2 linked regions of the Homo sapiens genome follow. The protein of the gene in region 2 interacts with the protein of the main gene of each other region in a biochemical or structural test. Each region holds a gene or a part of one and is shown on either strand. Other genes may lie near its edges.

The links. The genes of interacting proteins can lie anywhere in the genome.
Region 1: the proteins of PKN3 (region 2) and ARHGAP26 form a complex in vitro, tested with the Homo sapiens proteins (one study listed by BioGRID).

The regions. Positions count from the first base shown.
Region 1 is NC_000005.10:142,773,295-142,777,042, forward strand, and holds part of ARHGAP26 (rho GTPase-activating protein 26), read left to right. Parts: intron 1-3,748. UniProt on the Homo sapiens protein: GTPase-activating protein for RHOA and CDC42. Facilitates mitochondrial quality control by promoting Parkin-mediated recruitment of autophagosomes to damaged mitochondria.
Region 2 is NC_000009.12:128,705,503-128,709,250, reverse strand, and holds part of PKN3 (serine/threonine-protein kinase N3), read right to left. Parts: coding exon 3,708-3,748; intron 3,518-3,707; coding exon 3,372-3,517; intron 2,539-3,371; coding exon 2,427-2,538; intron 2,356-2,426; coding exon 2,228-2,355; intron 2,030-2,227; coding exon 1,846-2,029; intron 1-1,845.

The DNA.
Region 1 (3,748 bases), on a different chromosome or scaffold from region 2:
TCTATGTTCTCTTATAGCTCTAAACTTTTGTGGCTTTATTTTATAGCCATATTTTATTTTATTTTACAGTTATTTTATAACTAGTATTTCTAGCTCTTTGGATTTAACTTGGTTTTGAGTGTTAATCATAGGCAATAAAACTGTCCTCTAGGGATTGCCAAAGTTCAGGTAGATCATTGTTACTATTACTTCCACTTTATGAATGAGATGCTGGCAATGGAGATGCAAATTCTTTATAGATCTAGATCCCGTAAAGGAGAAACATGCAGCAGGTGCTTGATTAAGTGAAAACATTGCCAGTTGTTTTTTAGACTCCGAGCCCTGGGTAGCAAAGACCAGCTAAGATTTTGTATTATCCTCTGAAGTTTTGGAGTTCTTTCTCCATCACGGGCTTTGAAGGCTAGAGGGACAGATGAGAGTGGCTGAATATGTCTTGGCTTTGTAAAGCAGCAGAGTTTCTTTTGGGGGTAGCACTGAATGATTATCAGTGATTGTCTTTTCACTGAGTAATATAGCATTGAACAGAGAGGCCAAAAACCTGTTCTTGGTGTGATTCAGTAAGGTAAGTAAGTGGTTCATCCTCTTTGCCTTTCAAAGCAAGAGTAAAAAGGTCAGCACTGAGTTACATGCTTTAAAGCCTGTCACCCTTTTGTACTTGTTAGAATTAAACGTGGGCATTTTGCAATACATAAGCGCTTCTTGAATGGCATAAACTCTCAAAGGATGTTCGATGCCAACCTGCTTTGTTTAGGAGTAATTATGTTACTCAGAAAATCCTAATGGAACAAATGGATGTGGAGTTGGGTAGCAAAATATTTTCCCCAGATCCTTTGCTTTGCTTCAGTACCTTGTGAATAAAGAAAATCAAAGGCATTTCCTAATTATTTGTAAATGGTAGTAATTGACATTTTGAATATTACTCATACAAACATAAATGACAGCAAATTAAATTCAAACAAATTTTTATAGTTTTTATATAACATTGGCTGAAAAACATCCCTTCATTTTACTCCATTCTGTGTTCTTAGTTGGACTGAAAAAATTTGCATCCAGTCTGTAGTTCTCAATTCATTGACTTTGGCTTAAACCCTCCTTCCCTGCACTTAAATCATTAATGGACTTTTTTTTTTTTTTAAGAGCAGTTTTAGATTCACAGAAAAATTGAGTGGGAAGTGTAGAAAGTTCCCACATAGCGCCTCATACCTGTCCCTTCCAGTTGCCCCTATTTCTAACATCCTGCATTAGCATAGTACAGTTGTTATAGTTGATGAACCAATATCAATATAACATTATTAACTAAAGTCCATAATTTACATTAGGGCTCACTCTTTGTGTTGTACATTCTGTGGATTTTGACAAATGTATAATGACATATAAACACCATCATAGTAACATACAGAATACTTTCACTACCCTAAAAATCCTATGTGCTCCACCTATTCATCCCTCCCTCCCCACTAACCCCGGGCAACCACTAATCTTTTTACTGTCTCTCTAGTTTTACCTTTTCCAGAATGTCATGTAGTTGGAATTAAACAGTATGTGGCCTTTGCAGATTGGCTTTTTTTCACTTAGCAATGTGTACTGAAGGTTCTTTCATGTCCTCTTATGGCTGGGTAGCTCATTTCTTTTTATTGCTGAATAATATTCTGTTATCTAGATGTGCCATAGTTTATCCTTTCATCTATTGAAGGACATTTTGGTCGTTTCCAAGTTTTATCAATTATGAATAGAGCCGATATAAACATTTGCGTGCAGTTTATATGTGGAAATAAGTTTTTAACTCATTTGGGTAAATACCAAGGAGTATAATTGTTAGATTATATAGTAATGTATATATATATAAAATAAAATAGTACGTGTAGTTTTTTTTAAGAACTGTCAAACCGGCTTTCAAACTGATTATACTGTTTTGCATTCTCACCAGCAATGAATGAGAGTTCCTGTTGCTCTACATTCTGCTCAGCACTTGGTTTTGTCTGTGTTTTGGATTTTGACCATCCTACTAGGTGTGTAGTGGTATCTCATTTTAAAAAATTTAGCTATTTCCTTATGACATATGATGTTTGGCATCTTTTCATATTGCTTTCTTGCCATCTGCATATCTTCTTTGGTGAGGGGTCTTCAGATCTTTTGCCCATTTTTATTTGGGTTATTTCTCTTTGTCGAGGTTTGTTTGTTGTAAAATATACATAACACAACGGTTACCACTTTAGTCATTTTTAAGTATATAATGCAGTGGTTTTCAGCATGTTCACCATGTTGTATAATTACTATCTCTTTCGAGAACATTTTCATAATCTCAAACTGGAACTCTGTTCCCATTAAACAATAACTCCCCACTTTCCCCTCCCCCAACCCTAGTAACCTCTATTCTGCTGTCTGTATGAATTTACCTATTCTGTGTACTTCTTATGAGTGGAATTATACAATATTTGTCATAAATATCTGGCTTATTTCACTTAGCAAAATATTTTCAAGGTTCATCCATGTTAATAGCATGTGTTAGGATTTCATTTCTCTTCATGGCTAAATATCTTATTGTTGAGTTTTAATTATCAACAGCTGTCATTAGGAAAGACTATTCTTTCTCTTTTAAAGTCATAAAAATGTATTTTTTTCTTTCCATTTCGTTTCCCTTCAGTATGATCACTAACACTTGGAATTGACATACCAATTGATCATGGTTGTCTCTCACAAGAACACTATATTTATATTTATTCCTTTCAAAGCAGTTACTTGCTTCAGGTCAGCATGTTTTTGGGGGAATTTTTCATAAAAGGTTAATTGAATTATAATTTACATTCCATAAAATTCACCTTTTAAGATTTTATTTTTTATTGTTTTTATTATTTGTGGAGATGGGGGTCTCACTTTGTTGTTGCCCAGGCTGGTCTCGAACTCCTGGTCTCAGGTGATCCTCCCGTCTTGGCCTCCCAAAGTGCTGCGATTACAGGCATGAACCACGGCTCCTAGCCACTCACTTTTCTTAAGTGTATAATTCAGTGGTTTGTAGTTACAGAGTTATGCAACCATCATCCTAGTCCTGTTTTAGAACATTTTTAGCACCCCGAAAAGCTTTCTCATGCTCATTTGCAGGCACTGCATTTTTGCCTGAAGCCTCATACAACCACTGATCTACTACTTTCTGTCTCTATAGATTTCTCTTCCCTGAAAAATTAAGCTAAATGGAATCATATAATATGTAGTCTTATGCATCTGGCTTCTTTCACTAAGCATGCTGTGTTTGAGGCTCATCGTGTTGTAGCATGTATCAGTAGTTTGTTCCTTTTTATTGCTAGAAAATATTCCATTTTGTAAACCATAAGTTGTTTATCCATTCACCAGCTGATGATTTGGGTCATTTCCAGTTTTTTGCTCTTATGAATAATGCTGCTATGAATGTTTGCATACGTGTCTTCATGTGTATATATGTTTTCACTTCTAATTTCATTTTTTACCTAGGAGTAGAATTTTGCTGGGTTGTATGGTAAATTTATGTTTAAGTTTAATTTAAACTTGTGTTTATTTAAAAAAACCTACCATACTGTTTTCCATAACAGAAGCACCGTTTCACATTCCCACCAACAATGTATGAGGATTCTGATTTCTCCACATCCTCGCCAATACTTGTTGTTGTCTTTCTTTTTGATTGTAGCCACTCTAGTGGGTGTGAAGTGGTATCTCGTTGTGGTTTTAATTTGCATTATCCTGGTGACCAATGAGGATGAGCACCTTTTCATGTGTT
Region 2 (3,748 bases):
GCAGTGGTGCGATCTCGGCTCACTGTAGGCTCCGCCCCCCGGGGTTCCCGCCATTCTCCTGCCTCAGCCTCCCGAGTAGCTGGGACTACAGGCGCCCGCCACCACGCCCGGTTAATTTTTTGTATTTTTAGTGGAGACAGGGTTTCACCGTGTTAGCCAGGATGGTCTCGATCTCCTGACCTCGTGATCCGCCCGCCTCGGCCTCCCAAAGTGCTGGGATTACAGGCGTGAGCCACCGCGCCCGGCGATTTTTGTATTTTTTGTAGAGATGGAGCTTTGTCATGTTGCCCAGGCTGGTTTCAAACTCCTGGACTCAAGTGATCCACATGCCTCACCCTCCTAAACTGCTAGGATTATAAACATGAGCCACTGAGCCAGACCAGAAAACTCTTTCTTTTTTTTTTTTTCTTGAAAGAGTTTTGCTGTGTCACCCACGCTGGAGTGCAACAGTGCAATCTTGGCTTACTGCAACCTCTGCCTCCCAGGTTCAAGCAATTCTCTTGCCTCAGCCTCCCCAGTAGATGGGATTACAGGCATGCGCCACCACGCCCGGCTAATTTTTTTTGTTTCTAAAGATGAGGTTTCACTATGTTGCCCAGGCTCGTCTAGAAATCCTGGGCTCAAATGATTCGTCCACCTCAGCCTCCCAAAGTGCTGGAATTACAGGCTTGAGCCACTGTGCCCAGCCAAGAAAACTTTCTTTTTTTCTTTTTTTTTTGAGACTGGGTCTCAAAAAAACTCCTGAGCTCAAGCAATCTTCCCACCTCAGCCTCTCAAAGTGCCAGGATTATAGGTGTGAGCCACTGCACCCAGCAATTTTAGTTTAATTTTATTATTTTTTTTCCAAGGAAATTATTATTATTATTTTTTGAGATGGAGTCTTGCCCTGTTACCTAGGCTGAAGTGCAGCGGCGCAATCTCAGCTCACTGCAACCTCACCTCCTGGGTTCAAGCAATTCTCCTGCCTTAGCCTCCCGAGTGGCTGGGACTACAGGCATGTGCCACCACATCCAGCTACTTTTTTGTATTTTTAGTAGAGACAGGATTTCACCATGTTGGCCAGGCTGGTCTTGAACTCCTGACCTCAGGTGATCCGCCCACCTCAGTCTTCCAAAGTGCTGGGATTACAGGCATGAGCCACCATGCCTGGCCCAAGAAAACCTTTTTTTTTTTTTTTTTTGCGACGGCGTCTTGCCCCGTCGCCCAGGGTGGAGTGCAGTGGCGTGATCTCGGCTCACTGCAACCTCCGCCTCCGGGGTTCAATCAATTCTCTGCCTCAGCTTCCTGAGCAACCAGGATTACAGGCACCCGCCACCACGCCCGGCTAATTTTTGTATTTGTAGTAGAGACAGGGTTTCACCATCTTGGCCAGGCTGGTCTTGGAACTCCTGACCTCATGATCCACCCACCTCAGCCTCCCAAAGTGCTGGAATTACCAGCGTGAGCCACCACGCCCAGCCTAGAAAACTTTCTAACAGTCCAAGCTGCCCAGTGCTGGGTATCAAGCTTTCCAGGGCTGCGAGCTTCCTAACACCAGTGCTTTAAGCATTATTCTGGTTATTTATGTAAATACAAGCTACGCTGTCCGAGTGCTGACTGTGCTAGGCACTGTGCTTAGCACATCACGTGCAACACAGCAACCCTATGAGGTAGGTGCTATATCATCCACATTTTACAGATGGATAAACTGAGGTTTGAAGAAGGAATGTCAGTTTGCCAAGGTCACGCTGCTAGTGGGTGCTGGGGCAGGACTGGAACTCTTGAACTCTTCATCAGAGTTGTTTGTGCTTCCGGCCTCCCCCCAAAAAGAAGGAGAGCTTTGAAGGGGGAGGAACTTCTGACTACCTGTTAGGGCGGTGGGCTTCACAGGTGTCCCTGAAGGCTGGGGGTATCCAGGCACCGCAGCCCGCAACTCTCGGGTCACTCTGCTGCGCAAAGGGTGGGCAGGAGGCAGTTGCTCCAGCAGCTGCTCCAAGGCCAGGCGCAGGAGGTCCAGTTTCTGAGAGGACTCCTGTAGCTGGGCCTGGGCCTGCAGAGGGGACAACGTAGAGCCAGGTTCGTGGGGTATATGGCAGGGGGCAGCAGCCCAGGTCACCCGGAGCCACCTTCCGCATGAAGTCTCAACAGAGAAGTCCTGCTTTTACACGGCCACCCTCCCTTCACACCCCTGCTGAGGGTGGTATGGGAACAAGCCAGCCTTAGGAGAGGGCCAGGGCTGGGGCCTGACCTCAGCCAGTGCCTTGCGGTCCTGTGTTCTCCGGCTACTAAGCAGTTTCACCACGTTCTTGGCGCCCTCAGCCACAGCTGCCTCAACGTGCAGTCGATGCTGTAGCTCCTCCGCCAGCAGCTCAGGCCCTGTGGGAAGGACGGCGGCTCTCAGGCCCTGCTCTTCCCTGCTCCGCCCTCCCTGTGTCTCAAGGCCTCACCTGGCTCCGGGGACCCACTGGCCTCCAGGCTGCTGATCTTCATCCGCAGCAGGGCCACCTTCAGCTGGCTGTCCCGCAGCATCTGCTGGGCAGCTGCCAGGAGCTTCCTCTCCTATGGAGCCATAGCACAGGCCCATCAGACCAGGCCTGGGCCACAGCTTCCCCCATCAGACCAGGAACTGGAGCCGGGTCTCCCCCATCAAAACAGGGTTAAAGTGAAACCTCTAGGCCAAACACTAAAGTCAAGCCTCCCTTGTTGGACTAGTTGGTGGGTCAGGGGAGCCTTTTCCATCTGACCAACAAGGGCTGGGGTCAAATTTCCTCTTTCATATCACGGCTGGGGTCATGCCTCTCCCATCAGATCAGGGCTGGGGCTAACTCTCCCCCATCAGATCAGGGCTGGGGCTAACTCTCCCCCATCAGATCAGGGCTGTGGTCATGCCTCCCCCATCAGAGCAGGGTTGATGCTTCCCCCATCAGATCAGGGCAGGGGCTAAGCTAAGCCTCCCCCATTAGATGAGGGCAGGGGCTAAGCTAAGCCTCTCCCATCAGATCAGGGCTGGGGATAAGCCTCCCCCATCAGATCAGGGCAGGGGCTAAGCTAAGCCTCCCCCATTAGATCAAGGCTAAGGTCCTGCCTCCGTCATCATATCAGGGCCACAGCCAAGTCTTCTTGTCAGACAAGGACTGAGGCCCAGTTCTGGACATCATGCTGGGAGTTGGGACTGGGGCTGGGCTAGGATCCCATTAGACCAGGGCAAGGCCTTCTCTGTCACACTAGAGACTACAGCCATGCCTTCCTCACCCAGCTGGGGTTTGGGGCTGTATTTTCCCCATCAGGCTGCAGGCTGGAATGGTGTCTCCTTATGAGCCCAATGGCTGAGGTGCATTTCCCTGTCAGACCAGGGGCCAGGGTGCTCCTGCCATCAGACTGTGGGGCCTTACCTTGGGGGTGCCACTGGCGCACGTGTGGGTCATGTTCTCAGCCCCCTGCTTCACCTTCAGCTCCACATGCAGCTGCCTCCGGAGAGCCTCTAGGTGCCGAGCCCTGAGCTGCTCTGCCCACGGCCGGGGTCCTGAGGCCACAGGCTCTGTGCACGGGGGTATCGAGCACAGGAGTCCCTCACCCAGAGCCGAGACCCCCACTGTGGCCTTTCCTCCTTCCCCTACTGATCTATAGGCAGGAAATGAGGTGGTCTCGCCACAGTGGCCAGGGCCAAGGCCAGGGGCCAGATGGGCCTAGAGCCTTCTGTCCTGAGGGGGTCTCAGCTCCTCACTCACCAGCTGGGCCAGGCCCAGGGCCGGGCAGCAGGATTCGGGCG